2 separate regions of the Homo sapiens genome follow, and region 2 is linked to region 1. A link means that fine-mapping ties the variant in region 1 to the expression of a gene that starts in the linked region. Tissue or cell type: whole blood. Region 1 holds a variant in brackets; the other region holds the start of a gene. Each region is shown on its reference strand, or each on the opposite one.

The links. PIP is the estimated chance that this variant, and not a neighbour inherited with it, causes the effect.
Region 2: it holds the start of H3C4, and the variant in region 1 is fine-mapped to the expression of H3C4 in whole blood (TOPMed, PIP above 0.99).

Annotation. Positions count from the first base shown.
Region 1 is chr11:108,166,305-108,174,643 of GRCh38, forward strand. NPAT (nuclear protein, coactivator of histone transcription) reads right to left here. Exons shown (of 18, transcript NM_002519.3): 13 at 5,895-7,547; 14 at 3,624-3,739; 15 at 3,440-3,548. Among named protein-coding and RNA genes, the nearest start is that of ACAT1, 49 kb to the left of the region's middle. The variant G/T (reference allele first, on the strand shown) is at 3,453.
Region 2 is chr6:26,192,957-26,201,244 of GRCh38, forward strand. It overlaps H3C4 (H3 clustered histone 4), which reads right to left and starts at 4,330. Exons shown (of 1, transcript NM_001376937.1): 1 at 3,828-4,330. The coding sequence starts at 4,294. The coding sequence ends at 3,884. H2AC7 (H2A clustered histone 7) reads right to left here and starts at 6,337. Exons shown (of 1, transcript NM_021065.3): 1 at 5,828-6,337. The coding sequence starts at 6,287. The coding sequence ends at 5,895. H2BC7 (H2B clustered histone 7) reads left to right here and starts at 6,560. Exons shown (of 1, transcript NM_003522.4): 1 at 6,560-7,032. The coding sequence starts at 6,603. The coding sequence ends at 6,983. It also overlaps the pseudogene H1-12P. RefSeq lists enhancers at 2,661-2,710, 3,457-4,058, 3,571-3,680, 4,059-4,659, 5,402-5,461 and 7 more.

The sequences.
Region 1 (8,339 bases):
TCGCTTGAACCCGGGAGGCGAAGGTAGCAGTGAGCTGAGATCATGCCACTGCATTCCAGTCTGAGTGACAGAGCAAGACTCCCATCTAAAAAAAAATAAAAAAATAAATAAATCCTTTATCCTAATGTCATAAAAATATTCTCTTATACATTCTTCTATCATTTAATTGTTTGACTTTTTACTTTTAGGTCTTTAATCATCTTGGACTTCATCTTTGTATGAGGAAGGGATCTACTTTCTTCTCTATATATTGTATATTTAATGATCAATACATTTCATATATTATACCATCCATCTTGCTCTGACTTCTGATGTTAACATTACCATGTACAAGGTCTCTTTCTAAACTATCTTGTTCCATTTGTCTTTTTGTTTTAATTACTGTGGCTCTGCAATATTTTACCATTTGGTAGAATGAGTCTGTCCTCTGCTCTTCTATCTTGGCTAGTCATGGACTTTTATTCTTTCTCATAGATTTTATAGTTTTTCCCATCTCCCAAAATATTCTACTGGGATTTTTAAGGAAAATTACATTGAATTTTTGATTCAACTTGGAATAATTGCAATCTTTACACTGTTAAATTTTCAAATCTATGAACATGGTTCTCTTCTATTTATACATCCTTTATGAAAGATTTCAAATATTCTCCATTTCTAACATTTTTGGTTAGGTTACTTCCTTTATACTTTATCATTTTTGTGGTCATTATAAACAGTATCTTATTTTGTATAACACTTAATAGGTGTTTATTGTTGGCACCTAAAACACAATTTTAATTAACCATACCTGGCAACTTTACTGAATTATTAGTTCTATTAATTTTTCTATTAACTCCCTGTGGCTTTATTGTGTAAAAATCACATCATTTTCCATAACAGTTTAATTCCCTCTCTTCAAATCTTTACACCTATCTCTTTTCTTTTCTGAGACAGGGTCTCACTGTTGCCCAGACTGGAATGCAGTGGCATGATCATGGCTTACTTACAGCCTCAACCTCCTGGACTTAAGCAATCCTTCTGCCTCACCCTCCCGAATAGTTGGGACTACTATCTGCCACCACAGCTGGCTACTTTTAAAAAATTTATTTTCTAGAGATGTGGTCTCACTATATTGCCCAGGCTGGTCTCAAACTCCTAGACTCAAACAATCCTCCTGCCTCAGCCTCCCAAGGTGCTGGGATTATGGGGATGAGCCACCATGCCCAGCTCCATTTTCTTACTGTATTGTCTGGAACCACATATGTATGGATGTATGGGACCTTGTTTATGGTGGAAGTATAATCAGATGTCAGTGGGGCAAAAAACTGATTACTTAATAATTAATTTACTGGTGTTGGAAACACTGGCTTATTACATACAGGGTGGGAATGAGTATCTTTGTGTTATTCACAGCTTTAAAGGGAACCCATGATGTTTACTATAGATAGCCTTTAAGAGCTTTTATCATAAATGGATGCTTAACCTCACCAATGTTTTTTTCTGGTATCAACTTTGTAAGGGATAAAAACAAGTGTCAGACTGTGAAGACATCTGTGATATGTTACTAATAAAAGTATAACACCTCAACAGACAGGAAATTTAATAGAGAAGTAGGAAAAGGATATGAATAAGCAATTCACAGAAGGGAAAATATTATTTATAGTTATAAGAGAAGATTCCAAACTTTATTAGTAATCAGAATAAAGTAAAAGAATGATATGAGATACTACCACTTTAAATCCATCATAGTGGCAAAAGTTAAAATATCACATGGTATCAAATATTGGTAGTGTTGTGAGGGAAGCAGGGAAAATAATGGTAGAAGTATAAATTTTCTTCTCTATGACTCAGAAATTCTGGGTCATAGAGAAGATATACTTCTTCTCTATTATACCCAGTATACCCAAAGATTTCTGGGAATAAGCCCCCAAAGAAACTCTCATATGGGTTCACACAGAGGCATTTACAAAGATGTTCCTCATATCATTGCATGTCACATCGAAAACATCTGAAAAGTCCACTGATAGGACATATATAAAATACATTTATGCAAGTGATAGATATCAAATGGCCATTAAAAGGAATGAACTAGTTATAAGAAAGAACATAAAAATAATATAGAGTAGCTATAACAGGACATAAGTCTAAGAGGGTGCCTCAATAAGTCAAAATGCAACTTAAGCCTACATCAATAGATGTATACTGTTTAGTTTAAGGAAAGGCTGATTTGATAGCAGTTAGTTGAGTTCTCTGTATAATGAGTGCATTTAAGATACTCAGACTACTGAGAAGAAATACAATGTAATGTGTTAAGTGCTGTAGCATAGGTATCACTAAGAATTAAAGAAAAAAATAAAACCGGAATATCCACCTCAGCCACCGCTGGTTAAAAATGCTTCCTAGGAACATTTAAGTTAATTTCGAAGGATAAATAAGAACCAGATTGAGGGTAAGAGTTGGGTAAGAAGGGGGAATTCTAGGTAGAAGAGATAGCATTGGTAAAAGGTACAGGGACAAGAAAGATCACCAAGTATAAGGTGAGCAGCAACTATAGTTTGTACAAAGGGTCCATGCTGGGAAGTGGTAAGAGATGAGATGGAGAGGTCGAGAGTGACTAGATGACAAATGTATGCACATATGTCACCCTGAGAAATTTCAATTTTATCCTTTGGGCAAAGGGGAGTTGCTGAAAGTTTTTAGGCAGGAAAGCAACATATTCAGATTTGTATTTTAGGGAAAAAAAGTCACTCAGCCAGCAGATATGAGGTGAACTGAAACAACAGAGACTAAAAGAAGGGAGACTACATGACACTATTGATACAACTTAGATGAAAAATGACAAATACTTGAACTAAGAAGGAGAGGAAAATGTGTTTTAAGAGTGACTACCAGGTTTTTCACAAGTAAACAGATGGTTGGGACAATGGCTAAAACAGGGAACACAGGAAGGTAATTTGCAAACTTTAAAGCCTTGCTTCAAGTGTGGTCCAGTACCAGCAGCACTGGCATTGCTTAGAAGCTGTTAGAAATGAGGAATTTCAGGTGCTGTACCAGACCTATCAATTCAGTACCTGCATTTAACAAAATCCCCAAATAGTTCATATACACACTAAACTACAAGAAGAACTGCTCTAAAGTCTCATACAATTATACGAGGCATTCATTAAACACTTGAAAGCTGTTGGGAAAAATAGGGACTATACTTAATTTAGGGAAGCTGCAAAGAACAAACCAAGGACTACTGGGCAAAAGCTAACAGATTCAACAAAGGAGACAATTTTCTCAGAACCAAAGCTGTTCAGTAACAGTTGGCTGCATTATGACATCTGTTACTAGCAAATGTAGGGTGATCACTTGTTTTAAAATGGTTTAGGTATTCAGAAAGAAAACATTTAGGTGTTGCTGCAAACAAATGAACATACAAACATAAAGTTAACATTAATGAAATTAAAAATGGTACCTATACAAGGCTT[G/T]TTTCTTAGTCCCTGAGCCTTCTGAGATTTTGGAGGGACGGGGAATTGAGGGATACTTCTATTGCATACAGGTGCTGTCAAAGGCATATGAAGAACCTGGAAGAGAAAAAGCCATTAATTACACTAAGCTTGAAAAGCATCACCACACCATTTTCAGTTCATAAATCTTACCTGCCGAGGAGGAGTAGAAAAGTTATTTCCATTCTGTCCAACCACAGATACTGGGATCATCCCTACCATTCCTTGGAGTACAGGCTGGACTGGAGAGGCAATTATTATGGCAGATCCTAAAAAAACAATTCTTGTTAAAAAAAGATTTTCTCTGAAATGTTTTGGCACAAAACAAACAAATGTTTGGCACAAATTAATTACTGCTTTGAAATAAATTCTATGAACAATCCCTCTTCCTTACGATCCACTCTCCAAAAACAAAACAAAACAAAACAAAAAAAACGAAACTGAAACAGTTTTAGGAAAAACAGCAAGGCTAACAAATTAAGAAAAAGTCAATCCAAATATTAAGGTGGTCTTAATGTTATTCAGTCAGTGAACCATGCTGATCAAGCATAAGACTCTACAGCCAAGACATCATATTACAATCATATCTGGATTCCTCTAGAAATAATGAAACTAGTTAGAAAATGAGTGGTGAATGTTTCAAGTCTGAACCTTACACCAGAAAATTACAACCCCAACTGAATATTTATACCCAGGACTACACTTGTAACCCCAACCTATTACATATCTCAATGGTATTGATCAAAAGGGGGTAAGGTAAGCACGTAACTGGTCAAAACTATGGAGGGAAAATTACAATGTCTACATGGTCCTCAGAAGTCAACAACATAGTTTGTGGCTACTGTAATTTAGTCCTGTCCATAAACAAACTTTTGCCTAATACACTACTGTCAGGTTGATCCCCTCATTTTCATGCAACCTACTACGGTCTCTCTGTCTATGCTGGTGCTGCTTCTCTTTATAACTTACAGATTTTATAAGTTATAAAAACTTCCTTGCTTTAACTCCAAATCCTACCTTCATTCTTTAAGCTTTAGCTCAAGCCCCACATTCTCTATTAATTCTGACCTCTCCTTTATGTAATTTGTAACAGCACGTAAAACAGACCCATTAGGTTTAATACTAATTGTTGATATTTAATGAAATTTTATTGTATGTCTATAATGTAACAAAAAGGGAAAAGAGGGAAGCTTGGGAACCAACACATAAGGAAATGTAAATAAATGTGCCATGAGCACTATCTCTGAGGAACATACAATAAAAAATTATCAATATGATAGGCATATCAATCACTAACTACATATAACACAGCACGCAATAAATGCCACAAGAGCCCCTATGAAAAAAGGATTTTTTTTTTTTTTTTTTTTTTTGGAGACAGAGTCTTACTCTGTCACCCAGGCTGAAGTGCAGTGGTGCGATCTTGGCTCACTGCAACCTCTGCCTCCCAGCTTTAGATTCTTCTGTCTCAGCCTCCCAAGCAGCTGGGATTACAGGTGCCCACCACCATGCCAATTTTTGTATTTTTAGTAGATACGGGGTTTCACCATGTTGGCCAGGCTGGTCTTGAACTCCTGACCTCGGGTGATCTGCCCGCCTCGGCCTCCCAAAGTGCTGGGATTACAGTCATGAGCCACTGAGCCCAGCCATAAACAAAGGATTTTAAAGACAGAGATCAATTAGAAAGGATTTTATAAAGGAAGAAATTCAAGTTTTTTTTTTTTTTTGAGACAGAGTCTCGCTCTTGTTGCCCAGGCTGAAGTGCAATGGCATGATCTTGGCTCACTGAAACCTCTGTCTCCTGGGTTCACGAGATTCTCCTGCCTCAGCCTCCCAAGTAGCTGTAATTACAGGCACCTGCCACCATGCCTGGCTCATTTTTTTGTATTTTTAGTAGAAATGAGGTTTCACCATGTTCTCGAGGCTGGTCTCAAACTCCTGACCTCAGGTGATCGATCGGCCCACCTCGGCCTCCCAAAGTGCTGGGATTACAGGCGTGAGCCACCATAACCGGCTGAAATTCAAGTTTTTCTTGAAAATTTCTCCAAAAAGATGATGAATTCCCTGAAGACCATGACTATAAGAGCTATTTTTAAAAACTCCCCCACAACATTGGGTTTTATACAACTATGTGATGAATTAGTCTGTCTTTTCTGTTTATTGTAACTTACTAGCACATAGATTGAGAAGTATTTGTGAAAAGAAAAAAGAAAAACCACTAAAGCCCATAGCTTACTAGCAGATTAAGAAAAATAAAAAAGGTTTGAATTAGCTAGCATAAAGAAGCAGCGTAATCACAAATTTCAGAATCTTTTCTCATACCATCTACTCATTAGTTATTACTTCGCAGTCAATAACATCACATACAAAAGAAATTAGATCCCAACCCAGAGAAACAAATTTCAATTATGTTATTAAAGTTACCTTGTGAAAAGTTTGGTGACACAGCTTGGTTGACAGCAAATACACTGTTTGACCTTGGTGGTGTCTGTAACTGAGGTGGTAGAGGTTGAGCAGTCATAGGTGCAGAATTTCCAGGCAACACCACTACATTAGACTGACTTACAGATGTTCCTAACGCTGTTGGATCAGTCACACAGGTAGCTATCAGAATGTTATTTGAATTGCCAAAAGCTGTGCTTGTGGCTGGCATCAACTGTATATATCCTCCATCCTTGGAAACACATGGTGTAACATTAGCTGAAAAAGCAATGCCATCTTCATTCTGAGTATTGTTTACTGCAGAGTCTTCAGATTTGAATGTTAAAAGACTCTGTTCCATTGAGGCTGAATCCCCTACTTCGGCATATACAACAGCACCTACAGTTTCTTCTGAAGATAGGCATTTAACTAGTTCTGCATTTTTAGTAGGTGATTTAGTAGGAGAAGACAAGATTATAGTTGGCAGGTTTTCTCCATTAATACTAGAAACAGCACTGGTAAGTTCAGTATCTGAGGAAACAAATGGATCATCACTAATGATAACTTTGAGAGAGACGATATTTGATGCATCTATCTCTGCTGAGTTGTTGCTAGAAGGTTTATCATCAGTATTTTGGGACTCAGGGTGAGAATCTCCCACTGAAGAACACACAGATTCTGGAGGAAGAGAGTGACTGTTTTCTACAGGAGTGCCTTCTGGAGGCGTCAGTGCAACTTTCTCACAGTTAGCATTTCCACCTAAAGAGAGAAAAATAGTATTCTCTTCTTTTACAGAAGATGAAGGCTCCTGTGAATTCTCAGACTTGGATGCCTGAGCTTCATTTTCTGTATGATTTAACTCAACAGATGCTGAATCATTAGATGGTTGTTTAGTAGAAGACAGCGAATCTCCAAGATGAATTTCTACTTGTCCAGATACATTTAAATGTGAACTTTCAACAGACACAGGTAGTATTTCACTTTGAAGACAAGAATTATCTTGGCAATTTGATAGCTGTGACATAACTGGTTCTAACACATTAATTTCTATTTTACTCTTGTGAACTTCACTAGAATCTGATGACTTGGAACCATGAAAATTAATTTTAAGTTTTACTGTATCATTAGAATTTTCACAAAATTGACTTTTTTTAGATGGCTTTCCAGTTAATGAAGTATCTTGGGATAAAAGTTGAGAACTCTTCCCAGAGAGAATTAAGTTTTCATTGTTAGCTTCACAACCAAGTGAAACAAATGAAGTTATTGGTATATCAGGCTGATCAGGCTGTAACTGAGATTCACTCGGTACATTTGAAGACAAAGAGTTCTTTTCAATCCCTATAGCCATTTCAGTTTCAGTGGACATCTGATTGGTGTATAATTCAGCACAATGTGGATTACATTCAGCATTAGAATTCCCTCTTTGGTTAAAGTCATTCAAATTAGGCACGGACTCAAAGGTAATGTCAATGTCACACTTCTGTTCAGTGGGTACAGCTGTTTTAAAGGCCTTTTTCTGTATGCTGGTACTTATTTGGGAAAAATTTTCCTGGTCTTCTTGTCTAAGCACATCATGGTTGTTGCTATTCTTCAAAGCATTTAATGGGTCATCATTCTGATAGGATGTACAAAAAGCGGGCTGACCAGACTGACCATCTGCAAAGTATCAGGCAGGTAGACAGATATGGTAAATATGTTCAGCTTCTGAGGTAGTCATTTTTGCCATAAAACTTATTTTGCCAAGAAAATAACTCATCTTTGCATACCAGTAAGTGGAAGTCTGATACGCTGTGTTTCCCATTTACTGAGTATCAAAAAATTTACAGGTACTTTCTAGTTACTGATGACTTTTTACACAAGTGTCAATTTGTTTTCCAAGCTTGGAAGACAGATGATACAAAGAAGGAAAAAGTAAAGAGGTTTAATATTTCAATAGGTAAAAAACATACTGGCTCCAAAAATGAAGTTTATTTTGAAACACTAACTTTTCAACTTCTAACATTTCTTCTGACTTTAATTTATCTACTGTCTCGGCCTCCCAAAGTGCTGGGATCACAGGCATGAGCCACCACACCCAACTTATCTGACATATTCTTAAAGGTGAGATGGGGCCAAGTACATTTTGCATGATTGACACTTGATCTCATTGTGTACTGTTTAACATTAAACACATATTTACTGAAGACCAACCATACTTGGTTACTGGGATACAAAGATGAATGATCCAATCTCTAATCTTGGAGAGGTTAGTCAAGGAACCAACTATAGAACAGAAAGTCATAAGAAAGCATGGTAAAAACTGTAACAGCATAGGAACAAAAGGTACCATGAGAAAAAATTATAAAGGAGGCACTGTATGAGAAGATCTTAAAAAAAAAAAAAAAAAAAGAGTATGATATGAGTAAGGAAAGAGTATTTCCTTTTTTTTTTTTTTTTGAGACAGAGTCT
Region 2 (8,288 bases), not on the chromosome of region 1:
GGCAACGGAGTGAGAGTCCATCTCAAAAAGAGAAAAAAAAGAAAGACATCAATGTAAGAATTCAAAACAGAGAGAGATCTCATCTATTTTGAGAGATGGGGAATGAAAAATATAAAAATTTCAAAGTATGTCATTAGATTAGTTTGAAGTTTAAAACAGGGTGGGGGAGAGAGAAAAAAAGAAGAAAAAAACTGAAAAAAGATACTCTGCAAGGTAATATAATTAGACCAAGATCACATAGCTGCTAAGGGGCAAAACAAGACTGAAATACATGTCATCATGTTTGCAAATTCCATGCTTCTACTAAACCACACTGCCAGATTGTTGATTTAAGGCCATATAAAAGAGTTTGATTGCCATACTAAGATTATTCTTAAATCTAAAGCTATATGAATCCAGCTTTTTCTTCACGGCTTATAAGAATAGAGAAAACCAGTTAAGTGAAGAAAACATAAAGCTACAAGGAGATGGGGCATATAAATTTGAAGCTCATATGAAGAATATTTCACCCAGAGCAATGAAGAGAATGAATGACAGCACAAAGGGATGAGAGAAAGGAGCCACCCATAAGAAGGCTATAAAAATAGCCAGTCCAAAGAAGAGATAGAAGAGCAAGAATTACAACCATGAAAAGGCAAATAAACAAGGAAAGATGAATTTAGGAAGAATTCACCAAACTTAGTAACAGATTGGATTTGGCAACAAAGGAAAGGGAATAATTGAAGTGTCAGTTAACAAAGCAATAGTGTTGTTGTGAACAGAATATATAGGAATGTCACTTGAAAGGTTGCTTCCTAGATGTGGTTGGATATGTTGAGGGTGTGATATACGTAAACAATGAAGCCAATATCCAGCAATCTTAGACAGAAGCTACTTAGATAAGGATGGTCATACTGAGAGTCTGGTATAGAAGATGAACAAGCAGATATCCAGCAACCATCCAGAAATCCAACTTTGATACTTAGGCAAGAGGACAGGCCTGAAGGGAGAGACTTTAGTTACCTGTAAGAAACTAACTCACAAACCCATGAAGGCAAATAGGACAGTACCTCAGAGAATTCCTGCAGTTGGAAGGCTACAAGTCAGTTCTTCCTTTGTTGGTGCTCCAGGAAATCAAATATAAGTATAAAATATAAATATAAAATGGGTCAAAGCCATTTTAAGATTAGAAATACATGGGCTCCATAAAAAGTGAATACACACTCAAAGTAAATGTGATTCATATTTAGCTCATGTCTCATCTCAAACATTTGATTTTAATTTTTATTAACATTTATTAATTTGTTCATGTCCTAGTTTAATTTGCTACATGAAGTCATTTGTATTTTGATGAGATCAAAAAGTGTGAAACCCTCACCTTTTGGGCTTTACTCTGTCTGTTCCCAGCATTTATCTCCTTCATAGTCTTAGTAAAACAGAAATGTATATGCTCCCCAGATCAGCATACGTTCAAGACATTGAGGAGTGAAGAAAATCAGTTAATTCACTTTCTGCCATCACTCCATTTTCTTCTCATATCGAACATAAGCTGTACTTCATCACTATAAGCCTATATCCTTGTTTAAACAAGAAATGTAGTACTGAATATGAAACATGGCTGTTTTTTAAATTTCTCTCTCTAGGGAATTTTGTGTGTGTGTGGTGCTTGTGTGTATATTCTTTGATCCTGGTACTTGAATAGTTTACCAAAGTCTATTTTCCCCGTGTCACCAAGCATGACAGACCCCTGAACCCAAAGACTCATGAATATTTTAATAACAAATTTCCCCCAGTAAAAATTTAAAAAAAAAATTTTTTTTTGACCCTTAAATGAGTCAAACTCTGTCTCTTTTATGTCCTTTCGTGGATCTCTCCTGAGTTCAGCTATGCAAACAGTCCCAATATCAGGAGAATCAGTGATCATTGTATTTCCCATTTTCCCAAGGAAACGTTGAACATTTACTGGAACCCTCCCAAAGTAACTAAACGTCCAAATAGTTACAAGAAGCTATCATGAAATATTTTCAGCCCCAGCTAATTTTATCAGAAAGGGCTGTTGTTCTAAGTATCCGTACTGCTGTTCTTGTGGAGAAATTCAAAAAGAACCTGTTGTTTCTCTTCTCATATAAAACAGATTTCCTCGTTAAATCTCAATGAAAATCAAGTAGTTGTTCAATGTATGAGAAGCCAAAAATGTGTAGGCTATTATTAGAAGACAGCAAACAATTGAAGACACGAATGGAAGAATTTATATTTTAAATGAAAATCAAGAAGTTGTCCCTCTGAACTGTGAATCTCTGAAAGTTGGAACTTTTGATAAAGGCCGAGGCTGCCTTAAGTAAAAACTAGAGAAAGAAAATGTAAAGATCATAACACCGTAGCCGTTCCAGTTCATTGTAGAATAGAATTGGTGTGATTCCTCCTCAGGAAATTTAAACTATTTTGATTTTCTGAATTTCCGCAAACACAACTCAGAAACAGGGTTGAGACTAGGTTGCTGCCAAGCTGAAAGACTGAGCTGGGAACCAATCAGCGCGCAGCGTGTCTGTGTGTGACACACACGTAATCACAGACACACTCGCAGCCTGACTTTTTTTTTTTTTAACTGTTAGATATCCAAACCTACAATCATGTCCGAAACTGTACATGCCGTGACTCCTGGTCTATCTCCCAAGTCAAAGACTGAAGTAAAGAAAAAGGTTGCAAGTCCGAAGTTGCAGTGAAGTGCAAGATGTCCAGGCCCCTCCGGTATGTGAGTTCATCACTAATGACTTAGCCGTCTCCAAGAAGCGCAGCGGCCTTCTCTGTGGCCGCGCTCAAGTAGGTGTTGGCGGCTACGATATGAAGATCGGCCCTTGCCGGTCGCGGTGGCCTACGTTTGTAATCTCAGCATTTTGTGAGGCCAAGGCGGGAGAATCTCTTAAGCTAAGGAGTTGTTTTTGGTGGTTTTGTTTGTCCTTGGGGATTTTTTTTTTTTTTTTGAAGGAGTCTAGCTCTGCTGCCCAGGCTGGAGTGCAGTGGTGTGATCTCGGTTCACTGCAACTTCCGCCTCCCGGGTTCAAGCCCTTCTCCTGCCTCAGCTTTCCATGTAGCTGGGACTGCAGGCGTGTGCCACCACACCCGGCTAATTTTTGTATTCTCAGTAGAGACGAAGTTTCAATGTGTTGGGCAGGCTGGTCTCGAACTCTTGGCATCACGTGATCCGCCCGCCTTGGCATCCTAAAGTGCTGTGATTACAGGCCTGAGCCACCTCGCCTGGCCAAGCTAAGGAGTTTTGAGGCCAGCCTGGGTAACACAGTGAGACCTCGTCCCTAAAAATAAATACAAATTTTTAAAAATTATTTGAATAAAGTTGGGCCTTGAAAACAAACGAGGGCATCTTCGTGCTAAGGAGTGCAGCGCCTCAGGTTCATTCCCGCCAAACCAGGCAGTGTTAGGAAAATCAAGACCGAGGCCAGAAAAGCCGCTGCAGTCATGCCCAAGACAGCTGTCCTGGCAGCCGAGAGGCCCAAGAAAGCTTGGGGCGTCCTTATTCCGAAAAAGAGTACTAAGCGGACCCCAAAAGCTTTTGCTGGTGGAGGCTGCTGGAGAAGGTTGGTTGGTCAAAGGTGGCCAAGAAAGTTCCCAAGCCGGAGGCATCCAAGCCTAAGAAAGCGGCCCCCAAAACAAGGAGATATAAGAGTACCTTAAAGGCTGTTTTAAGAACTCCCCAATTATAATAAAGCTTTTTGCACCAATTCCGTGAGGGGAGGGGGAACGGATAGAGGCAAGAATGCTTACTTACCTTGAGTGAACAGAGGTTCCAGTTTACGGACAGCAACAGTAAACAGCAACTTTTATAGAAAAGGTGGTTGGCTCTGAAAAGAGCCTTTGGGTTTTGGTTAGCACACATTCACAAGACAATTTACGCCCTCTCCCCACGAATGCGGCGAGCAAGCTGGATGTCCTTGGGCATGATAGTCACTCGCTTGGCGTGAATGGCGCATAGGTTGGTGTCCTCAAACAGCCCCACCAGGTAGGCCTCGCAGGCCTCCTGCAGCGCCATCACCGCCGAGCTCTGAAAACGCAGATCAGTCTTGAAGTCCTGCGCGATCTCACGGACTAGACGCTGGAATGGCAGTTTGCGAATCAGCAGCTCGGTCGACTTCTGGTAGCGGCGGATCTCGCGCAGAGCCACCGTGCCGGGCCGGTAACGGTGGGGCTTCTTCACGCCGCCGGTGGCTGGAGCGCTCTTTCGAGCAGCCTTGGTGGCCAGCTGCTTGCGTGGCGCTTTCCCACCCGTGGACTTGCGAGCAGTCTGCTTGGTACGAGCCATTGCGAACTTCTAAACCCTGCTAAATGACGAAAAAACGAAAGTCTAGCCTTTCGTACCCGTATATATAAAGACACCCCTGTTCTGATTGGACAAGGCAGCCTTTCCCCTGCAGCTCGATTGGTGGAGACGCCCACTCCCTGACAGAACATCTCCTGCATGTAGACCAAATATTAAAACTTTCCTCCGTCCATCTTTAACTGCTGGTGTTTTCAACCCTTTCCCCTCTGTGCCATGTTTCTAGCTTTTATTTAAAACGTACTTTGGTTTTCCTTGGCAAAATTGTGTCTAGCTACTAGGATGACGTGTCTTAATTTTTTTTTAAATGTTGGCGCTGAAACTGGCTTTGATCAACGTTTTAAAAAGACGCGCGCTAGTTGTGATTGGCCAAGTGATTTCTTTTTACCCTCTTAAGTTTAGAAAGGTTAATTTCATATCTTGATTTGTCTATTTAAACTTGGAGATATTTTCAATAATTTGTTCCAAATGCACCATGACTATTAACTCATAAGTAACAATATGAAACCTGATGTTAAGCTACATGAACACATTTAATTTCACCACAATATGTCATCCTCATATGAAAGCACTCTTATCTTTTACAAGTTCAACTGGTATTTGTGTAATCTGCTGTAAAAAAAAAAAAAAAAAAAAGCCAAATTTATAAATGGCACAAAAAGACCAGTGTGCCCTTTTAGTCATGCTGAACACTGTGCTAAGAAGCTCCACCTAAGGGCCGTCTGGCTCCAGGGGATGTAGGTTTGTATTCCTATTGATAATTAATTAGGGTTAGCTCAGTAGAGTTGAAAGTGGCTTGCAAAAACAAACCCAAAAAATACTTACAAATTACAGGTTATTTCGTATCATTAAGATGCATACAAAAGACAATAAAACATTTGTTCTGGTTCTGTTGCTTTAAGTCACTAACTATATTTTTATGTAAATGTAAACACTGACAAACATTAACTTCTCTCCTGTATGTCTCAGGCCTTTTAACAGCTTTGCAATCCTAACGAGCCGCTGCATTGATCGATTTAAATTACATGTGACATAAAGTCTCTTTGCATTTTAATTAGTTTGCTTTTTTGGGTTTTTGTTTGTTTTGAGACAGTCTCGCTCTGTCGCCGAAACTGGAGTGCAGTGGCGCGATCTCGACTCACTGCAACCTCCGCCTCCGGGGTTCAACATTTTCTCCTGCCTCAACCTCTTAAATAGCTGAAATTACAGGCGCGCGCCACCACGCCCGACAAATTTTTTTATTTTTAGTAAAGACGGGGCTTCACACCATGTTGGTCAGGCTGTCCTGGAACTCCTGACCCTGTGATCCGCCCACCTTGGCCTTCCAAAGTCCTGGGATTACAGGCGTAAGGAACCGCGCCCCGCCAATTTGCTTATGTATTTTTATGGCATCTTTAAAATGGACGGTTAGTTTCACGATTCAGTGTTAAGAACACCCACTTATAAATGGAAAAATTATTAAAGAAAACTGCAAAATAGCTATTTACACAGAAAATGTGAGCCCTTTTAAGGAATACATGGGTGGCTCTGAAAAGAGCCTTTGTTAAGACTGCTTCCTTAAAAAGCCAATATAAGAGTTCTCGTTTTACTTGCCCTTGGCCTTGTGGTGACTCTCAGTCTTCTTGGGGAGCAGTACAGCCTGGATGTTGGGCAGAACACCGCCCTGAGCAATTGTGACTTTACCCAGCAACTTGTTTAGCTCCTCGTCGTTGCGGATGGCCAGCTGCAGGTGTCGGGGGATGATGCGGGTCTTCTTGTTGTCGCGGGCGGCGTTGCCCGCCAGCTCCAGGATCTCGGCGGTCAGGTACTCCAACACCGCCGCCAGATACACTGGCGCGCCGGCCCCGACTCGCTCGGAGTAGTTGCCCTTGCGGAGCAAGCGGTGTACGCGGCCCACAGGGAACTGGAGTCCGGCCCGCGAAGAGCGGGTCTTAGCCTTAGCTCGGGCCTTTCCGCCTTGCTTGCCGCGTCCGGACATTTTGAATTCTTAAAAACGATGTTAAGCAATGAAGACAAAAATGTAAAAGTGAATTTTGTTAGCAAGTGAGAAACTATTATACTTGGAGGTCGAATTGTAAATAACGCTATTTGATTGGCTAGAACAACCAACCAATTGCAAAGAAACGCTAGAATCACCTAATTTGCATACCACAGGGCACACAGAGACAATTCATCCAATCAATGTGTAAGCTTTTAAATGCCAGTTTACGATAGGAGCTCTACAAATATTACCAGCTGCAGAGTGAGGACACTTGCATTTCTCTTTAGGTTGTGGACGAAGTGTTTATTTATCATGCCTGAACCTGCTAAGTCCGCTCCTGCTCCAAAAAAGGGCTCCAAAAAGGCGGTGACCAAGGCGCAGAAGAAGGATGGTAAGAAGCGCAAGCGTAGCCGCAAGGAGAGCTATTCCGTGTACGTGTACAAGGTGCTAAAGCAGGTCCACCCCGACACCGGCATCTCATCCAAGGCCATGGGCATCATGAACTCCTTCGTCAACGATATCTTCGAGCGCATCGCTGGCGAGGCTTCCCGCCTGGCGCATTACAACAAGCGCTCCACCATCACCTCCAGGGAGATCCAGACGGCCGTACGCCTGCTGCTGCCCGGGGAGCTGGCTAAGCACGCCGTGTCAGAGGGCACCAAGGCCGTCACCAAGTACACCAGCTCTAAGTAATTCTAACGTCTTCATACCCAATCCCAAAGGCTCTTTTAAGAGCCACCCACTTTTTCAGCTATAGAGTTGTAATTACCTGCATATTTTCCGTGTTTACCACCAACAGGTTTGGTTTTATCCTCATTTGAGGGGGTTGCTGCTGTGTAGGTCTAGACCACAGTTCTTTTGACTGGTTGAAGGAAAATGCTATACTTAACCGTAGCATGTTTGTTTTACCCCAAGTGCTGGTTAGAAGGCTAGCCCATTGTGCTGATAAGCACATTTTTCTTATGTTGTGCTGTGATGTGTCCCTTGTCAAATTGGTTTCATAAGAAAAGAACTTTTGAAATATCTCTTTTGCTACTGACATAGTGTGAGGGAAAGGAATGTCTTCCTTAATTCCGGTTTAGTCATCGCAGCATTGGCGAATTTAGCTGGTTAAAATAATGTAATCAAATTCTTTAAAATATAAGGAAAGCAAGACAAGTAATGTGCATGAAAACTGAAAAAATGTGAACACCCGAGCCTGGATGCAGCACTAATAATCAACATTGTTCTTGGTTTAGTTAAAGAAAATTTGGCCACTGGCAAAATACCATTTGGGAGTAATGAGACACACCCCTAATCCTAAAATATTTTCTTGTCACTTCCTCAAAGTTGTTTTTGACTTTTTTTCCTTCAGGGTTGACTTCATATGTGTTCATTTTATTCTAATAAGCAAAAGTTGTAATTTTTAAGTGAAAAAATAATTTATGTCATTCTACTTACAAATACAATTTTTCTATTCTATATACTCATATATAAAGATACTGAAGTTTTACTGTATTCTTGGTAATTACAAGCCTTACTTAAGATCATAAACTGTTATGAATGGCATCCAGTGTAGAATACTTAAAATTTTTACAAAATGTTTTTGTATCTTAAAAATATTTAAAATATTATATATAAAAGATTCTTAGAATTTCAACCCAGTTAAGAAAAAAGGAATAGTATTCTATATTATTACTTTTTTTTTTTTTTTGAGGAGGAGTTTCGCTATTGTTGCTCAGAGTAGAGTGCAATGGCGCAATCTCGGCTCACAGCAACCTCTGGCTCCCGGGTTCAAGCGATTCTCCCGTCTCAGCCTCCCGAGTAGCTGGAACTACAGGCGCGCACCACCATGCCCGGCTATTTTTTGTATTTTTAGTAGAGACGGAGTTTCACCATGTTGGTCAGGCTGGTTTCGAACTCCTGACCTCAGGTGATCCACCATCCTCAGACTCCCAAAATGCTGGGATTACAGGCGTGAGCCACCACACCCGTCCCATAATTATTTTTCAACTTCCC